2 linked regions of the Homo sapiens genome follow. The protein of the gene in region 2 interacts with the protein of the main gene of each other region in a pairwise test. Each region holds a gene or a part of one and is shown on either strand. Other genes may lie near its edges.

The links.
Region 1: the proteins of ARHGEF40 (region 2) and STC2 interact in a two-hybrid assay, tested with the Homo sapiens proteins (one large-scale study listed by BioGRID and IntAct).

What each region holds. Positions count from the first base shown.
Region 1 is NC_000005.10:173,321,915-173,325,732, forward strand, and holds part of STC2 (stanniocalcin-2 precursor), read right to left. Parts: intron 1,517-3,818; coding exon 1,305-1,516; intron 1-1,304. UniProt on the Homo sapiens protein: Has an anti-hypocalcemic action on calcium and phosphate homeostasis.
Region 2 is NC_000014.9:21,076,701-21,080,518, reverse strand, and holds part of ARHGEF40 (rho guanine nucleotide exchange factor 40), read right to left. Parts: intron 3,746-3,818; coding exon 3,629-3,745; intron 2,343-3,628; coding exon 2,247-2,342; intron 2,147-2,246; coding exon 2,031-2,146; intron 1,636-2,030; coding exon 1,509-1,635; intron 1-1,508. UniProt on the Homo sapiens protein: May act as a guanine nucleotide exchange factor (GEF).

The sequences.
Region 1 (3,818 bases), on a different chromosome or scaffold from region 2:
GTTAGCCTAATTCGAGGAAAATGCAATATTGTTTTGCTTTTGGCAAGAGCTTCCTGCAGAGTTTCGCCATGAATTGTATGATTCTAACACTGTAGCAAGGGTGTTGCAAGATGCCTATGACCTTATAACCAAGTGGAAAGAGACAGGAGGTGCTTGCTGTTCTCTGTCATCTAAGTGGTGTTGGTGTGGTAGGGACATAACTGGAAGAAGGTTGTGGCACAAACTGAGGATCAAGAGTTCATAAAATTATACCGATTTGGCTCAATGAGTCACCGTGGAGAGACCAACAGTGCCATCAAACTGGTAATGACTTGTACTGAACTGGTTGGCTAGTGGCTTTCTTTCTGCCCTGTGTCTCTTAGGAAAGAGCCATTGTCAATATTTAAAAAAAAAATCTTCAGGGGCTCCTGGCCCTGCCTCATGTTAGGAACAATTGTGTACCAACATGCTTTACCATGCTGCAAAATTTAGGATCCTGTGGCTGAAATATTTTGTAAGAAATGATGCATCCTGAATTTATCATTGAATTTCAAGTCTTGAAATAAGTAAGTTCACATTTCCTTGTTTTGGCATAGAAGTGTTTAGCTGATTAAAGTTTTTGGCACTTGTTTTGCATTTCCTCTGAGAGGGCACTAATGTATGAGAGAAGGTAAACCGAACCTTCTAAGGGAAAGGAAAGTTAAGGAGGCAGGAAAAGCATCTATAGCTCTGTTTTCGGGATTTAAGAGTATAGGTTCTGGAGGCAGACTGCTCAGCAGACTGGAGCCAGGTCCCAAGTCTGGCTTTGCCTGTCACTAGCTGTGTGAGCTCTGCCTTAGTGAGTCTCAGTTTTCTCATCTGTCAAATGGAGGTGACGAGGGCTGTGGTGAGGATCAAGTGAAAAATTCACAAGGAGCCCTTAGCCCAGTGCCTGGCGCTTAGTAAATATTCAACAAATGTTATTAGCAATTTGCTGTCTGTAAGGACACCTCTACAGCTACTCAGAATATTCTGAGAGCTAGTGGGTTCTTGGCTAAGGGGAAGATGAAGAGTATTACTGAATCGACACATTTCATTCTTAGTAAAACGATTTCCCATTTCTGTTGCTTGTGATTTTGAGACTGATGAGGGAATTCTCTCTTTTCCTAAAAGCCAGCAGGAAAGGGGCCTTTTAGTAGAGTCAGTGTAGCTTTCTGAAGTAAATGGAAGCCTTCTCCATTTGACAGGCATTCAGCCTCTAGAAGCAACGCGGCTCTCCTCCCATACACATTGCCATCCTTGCTGGGTGGCCCCTTCACCCAGGCCCTCTGCGGGGCAGTACTCACTCGTGCAGCAGCAAGTCCTTGAAATGGATCATCTCCACTATCACCCGGGTGTTCTCCTGGGCAGCCGCGCACAGGTCGTGCTTGAGGTAGCATTCCCGCTGCAACTGGGACACCATTTCCCTGATGGCCGGGCACTTCCGGCTTATGCAGCCGAACCTGTGCCGCAGAGCGTGGGCCTTACATTTCAAGGCGTCTTTGATGAATGACTTGCCCTGAGAACACACAGGCCGGGGAAGGGAGAGAGGGGCAGAAAGCAGAAGACCTCGTTACATGCTTGGACATTTCAGCCCTTCTTGGGCTTACACAGGATATTTCTGACATCAGAACCCCAAGGCCCCACCAGAGACGGACGTCCTCCCAGGTGACAGGCAATGCGACATCCGGAGGCACGTCCAGAGTGACATGACACCCCCAGCACTGGGCAACAAGGGATGTTCATTCTGTAGACGAACACATCTCCCTCCTTCCTCCCTGGCTACTCTGTGAGTTTCCCTCCAACGGGGGCTTCCGTGGCTATGTGTCCCTCAGGTAGCCCTGTGTTGGTTGTGTGGTGGCAACTTTTCTGGAACACAAAGGGAATTTGGCCAGACACAAATCCATAAATCCCTCACGGTTCTCACAAGCAGTCTTCCCTAAGTGGAAGGTGCCTGCATGTCCAAATCTCACACGTTTCCTTTTTCCCTTGATTCCAGGGGCGACACCGAGATTGATTGCTGATTGTACCTCCCTTTCTGCCTCCGTGCCTCCCACGCCCCAAATCCATACCCTTGTCTCCTCCTACCCTACCAGGAAGAGCGCTCTTTTCCTTTTTGAAAATGACTCTACTCCTTTAAACTGTTCGGATTATTGCCTCTAAAAGGCTGGCCTGGCACCCTGCCTGGCAGCATCTGGAGTCTGAACTGCCGCACTGGCGGCCCCTCCCCCACGCTCCCTGCCTCCGAGTGGCGAAGGCAGCCAGGCATACATCTGGCCTGCAGTTCTCTTTCCTGGCAACCCCGTCTGATTGTGCTTATCCTAGAAAGGAGACAGCTGTTGGGGGTGTGGAGGCGAGCTCGGTGCTGCTCCCTTATCAACCTCGCGCAGCCCGGAGGCATTGTGGGATGCCTACCCGGGAATCCCCGCACCCCACATTACTATAGAAACTAGCTGTCGTCGGAGAGGTCACCCCTCTGTTTTTAGACAGGCCCGGAAGTCACTGAGTTGAGAAAGTAAATGGGTTTAGGTTGGAAGTGGGAAGCCAGCCAGCACATTTATTTTGGTTTTGTCTTTAGCAGCCATAGAAATGTCTACAGATAGCGTCTGATCTCTGAAAAACCATGTGGCCCGCATGGCCTCCCCGTGGCCCCCTCTCTTTTGACTCTCCAGCCAGAGCCAAACAGAATGGAGGGCAGGGTGTGCCCGTTTATTAAGCAGTTATGTGCTGAGCATCAACTTGAAAGGGATGTCTCTAACTTGAGAACGTATTCCTGTTGGTTGGGAAAAAAAAGAGGAAGATGAATTTATGCGAGGGCTGTGGCAATCTGTTCTTGGTATTCTTCCCTGACATCCTGTGGGATTGCCCTTAAATACACGTCTTTCCTCCGGATTTCCTATTACGTTTCCTAATTCCCGTTAATCCAGAGTGATGCTTTATTAGGGAGCCTCAAGGAGTTCAAAGTTCTACCTCTTTCCTTCCCTGGTTTCAGTTTCCCCTCTGGCCACACCGCACATCCTCTGCAGTTTAGGCTGCCAGCCCCGTCTTCGCCTCCCCTCCTTGTTCCCAGGCACTGCTTTGTCAGGCTCACTACTATATGTCAGTGGATGGGGACTGGTGACATCCATAAATCTCACCTAAGCTGATGGCCACCTCCAAATGTTGGCATTGCTCTCCAATGAAGCAGGAGAGACGTTTCTGAGATATAGTAACAGGGCGTTTCAACAGGGCATATAAGTGGCCAGGGAGAACACGAAGAAGGTGAGTCTGATGCCACATGCCATCTAAAAATGTATTTGCGTTGTTGGCACTGGAGCCATATGTTGCTTGTTGTGTTCCTGCCTTGCCCTGAGCAGCAACTCCGCGTTCCCCTTGGGACCCTGGGATAACCGAAGTGGGTCAGGCCCTGACTATATTTATCATATAGAGCAAAAGGAAAGTGTGGAACTGAAGGACTCAATCAGGGTTTCGACCGGTCAGCTTGGGAGAGAAAGATCTGCTACTCAGGAGGAATAGAAGTCTGCTCTTTTGGAGGTCCTGAGTTATTCGGGTTGGCTGCCCACACACCACATGACGGATTTCTACATACTTTGTGTCTCATTTTCCTAGTAGGTGAAATGACTTCTGAAATGTATAATTGGGGGTTCCTGCCCCTGCCTCTCATGCAGTGGGCTTTGGAGACTGAGTTCTGGGTGGCCAGACACAGCGTGTCCCCTTACAAGGTGTTTATCGTTTATTATGACATTGGTCTCCAGTCCACCCTGCCTGTGTAGACACAGCTTATGAGTGCAGAAGGGAGACACTGGCATAATGTTTTATAC
Region 2 (3,818 bases):
CAGTGAATGGTAATAGTTTCCACAAGGGTCAGATGAGAAACCGAGTAAGAAATCTTTGGTAAGGCAGATGAGAGGGAAGCTGGGCTGATGGGAAGCACTGAGGGAGTGGGTCAAAGTTCCAGGGCTATGTCCGAGGGTGAAGTACATCAAACTGGGGTGAACCAAAAGCAGGATGAGGGTCATAGGGATGACTGACGGCCTTCACCAAGCCTTGGCAACTGGTGAGAAACGGTCCCAGGGACCAAGCCTGGAGAAACAGTACAGAAGGGGTGTGTGTGTGTGTGTGTGTGTGTGTGTGTGTGTGTGTGTGTGTGTGTGTCCGGCTTTAATTTCCTAATATGAGGCTATATGAACTCTCATGCTGGTTCTGAGATGTTTGACCAGAACGGGATGGTAATATTTTCCTCTGAAGAAAGGCTGGAAGCTGGGGGTGGGACAGCCTGAGGATGAGAAGTCTGAGACTGTTCCTAATAGCCAGTGCCAACAATAACCACTTTTATAGTCCTTTGCTGAATTCACTTGATCTTTCTGACCACGTTGTGAGTTAATTGTTACCATCCGCATTCTATAGATGAGGACTTGGGAACTCAGAGGAGCTTCATGACTTGTCCAACATCTTACACATGGCAGAACTAGAACTCAAGCTGAGCACGTTAGACTCCAAATCTTGTTTTTAAACAGTTGGGGAAACAGCTAACAAGCAGGTAAGCAAACAGGAGGAGATGCAACCCATCTCTAGGATATTGGCTTAGAGGAAGCCAATATGAAGAAATCCTAGGAAACAGAAAGTCTTGGCCCCCGCTTTTGCACCGGCCCTGAGGTGACCTTTCCCCTGATGCCCACGTACAGGTCCATGAAGTGTCCATTCACCATGCTCGGGGCTAAGGAGGAACAATCAGATTTCAAAGCCCCCTCTACCCCACATGGTAGGGTGGAGAGCAAATCCCTATGGGGCTCTTAACCCCAGGAGAGAAGAATCAAGGTTCAGAGAAGCCAGCCTTATTCCTGAATCTTCCCCACAAAGAAGCCTGTAGTTCCTCTTAGGTGCTTTCAATGCTCTCTCCTTCCAAGGGAGAGGGAGGTGGGACCTTTCCGGCCTCAGGTCTGAGGGATGACATCGCATAAGGAGTTAAGGGTGTGTGTGTGGCAGTATAACTAATGAGCTGGTATCAATAGACTTTTATTATTTTTCAGCTAAGGTGGTAGGCACTCCAGAGTTGATCAGCTCTTCAGAATCCCCTAGGGCAGCTGAGCATCTCTCACAATCTCTCAGCATTTTCGATCAAGTGTAAACAGTGGGGAGGGGAAGATCTGGCTTTTCTTTACTGGTGCTATGATGCTCCCACCCTCTTGTTCAATCTCACACTGACCAACAAATGTGAGGAGGAGGGAGGGGCGTTCAACCAAGCCAGGCTAGAAGAACACCATCAACTATAAGTACCAACGGGAAAGGTGCTGGAGGCCACACTCCCAGGCTGAGTAAGAGGGACGTGGGGATCCTGGCTCACCTGCTGGAGTCGCCGCAGGCACTGCCGCTGCTCTTGCTGCTGCACGTGCAGGTTGGAGAGGCGCACAAGCTGGTGAATGGCCTCGTCCACTTCCTGATACAGTGTAGCTGGGCCTTGGCCCTCCAGCCTTGGGAAGGAGCAGAGAAGAATGAATCATTTCCCTTGTTGAGCCCCTCAATTCTGTCCTTCCGTGCCTCTGAGGGATGCAAACATGAGAGGTTGCATAGCAGCATGGATCAAAAGCATGGGCTGAACCCTGACTGCTTTGGTTTGAATCCTGACTCTTTACTGACCGATGTTGGCCAAGACAGTTAACATTTCTGATCCTCCAAATCCTCATTTGTAATAGTAAATGGCACATAAGGATGTTGTGAGGGTTATGAGACAGTAAGTGTAAAAGCATAGTATCTTGCCCAGATACATGCACAGTAAGAATGGTCTGGCAGCTAAGGTTTGTTGGCAGCCTTCAGCTGTGTCTCCACCTCCCACTTCCACCTGCCTCCGCACACCCATACTTCGTACTTGCTGCTGGGAGTGGAGCGCAGCCTCATCAGGATGGCCCCCCCATCCCTCTGCAGTGCCGTCAGCCGGGGATCTGCCAGCACCTTCTGCAGTGGCTTGGGCATTCCCACTGCCTCCTGGGGATAGGGAGGAGTTGCCAGTTGGGGTTCCACCAGAGAGTCTCCACCCCAGCCCCATCCCAATCCCATCCCCCCACTGTCCCATCTCATTTCATACCTCTTCCTCTGGCTCTGCTGCTCCCTCCAGCTCCTCAATGGCCTGCCGTACCGAGCCCAGCACACCTTGGCACAGGCGACATAGCCTTACCACTTCCTGAAACCCACATGCAGGGATGGAGTTGAGGATCAGAGTTTAAGAAGGAACTTAAGCCCTAGGGTTGGGGTGCGGTAGCCCCAGAGACTTTTATGGAGGCAATGCTGAATTCAGTTCCTGACTTTGTTGCTAACTAATTGTATGAGGTTGGGCAGGTTCAGAAACCTTCCTGAACTTCAGTTCCTCAACTGTAAAGTCAGGATAAGAAAGGCTTCTGTGATTTTTAAGGAGATGATGCCAGTTTAGCAACTAACGTGGGCCTGGCACATTGTACAGCTTGGTAACTGTGACCTTCCTGTCTGTCTTCAGTGGGGCTTCCCCCTGTCACACCCCCTCTCTCTGCCTATTCATGTCAATTTCCCCTTTGACACTAAAGGCGAAGCTTAGAGACCATCTACAGACCCCTCTTTCATACTCAGCTCAGATCATGTTTATTTCTCTCTTCTTGAATACTCACAACACTTATATTCATAGAATTACATGAGATAAGTGCTGGAAGGACCTTTAGCAATTATATTGTGATTGTTATACTGCGCTGATGAGGATCCTGAGGCCTGGATGTTGGTGCAAGGAGCGGATACAGAAAGGGCACTATTTCTGCAAGTGAGGTAAAGTAATTTGGAACAAGAACCAGCCTTTTGACTCTCAGTGCTTTCCAGAAACCCAATGACACTATCTTGCACTCTTCTCTACTTGTTTCATGATTTATCTCCCACCAAAAATCATACACTACTTAATGTCATATTAAGAATTTATTTGGCTGGGCATAGTCACTCATGCCTGTAATCTTAGCACTTCGGGAGGCTGAGACGGGTGGATCACTGGAGTCCAGGAGTTTGAGACCAGCCTGGGCAACATGGCAAAACCCCGTCTCTACAAAAAAAAAAAAAAAAAAAATACAAAAACTAGGTGGGTGTGGTGGCACATGCCTGTAGCCACAGCTACTCAAGAGGTTGACATGGGAGGATCGCCTGAGTCCAGAGGGTCGAGGCTGCAGTAAGCTGTGATCGAAGCATTGCACTCCAGCCTGGGTGACAGAGTGAGACTGTCTAAAAATAATAATTATAATAATTTATCATACTCCTCCTATCTCCCCAGTAGAACATGGCACAGTGCACATGTTTTCCTCATGATTTGGGAGCCATAAATACTTGTTGAATTGAATGGAATGGAAACCACTTTTTTGCAACCTCATGGTATGTCCTGGACATGGCCTCTCTCCTAGAATGTCTTCAGCTGGGTTATTCCTGGCTCCCAGCATGCTAGGTGGTAGAGGGGAAGCTTACCTGGTGTATCTCTACCCAGTGACTGGGAGAGGGGTCCCTGTGACCTCCTAACTCCCACTGCAGCTCCTCTGGCTTGGCCACTCTTTTCAGATCATTCTCTGACAGCACCTCAGCACCCTGTAGAGGGTAAGGCAGGGGGTTTCTTCCTGGGCACCCAAGGACTCAGAAACCAGCCTGGGGCTCCAGCCAG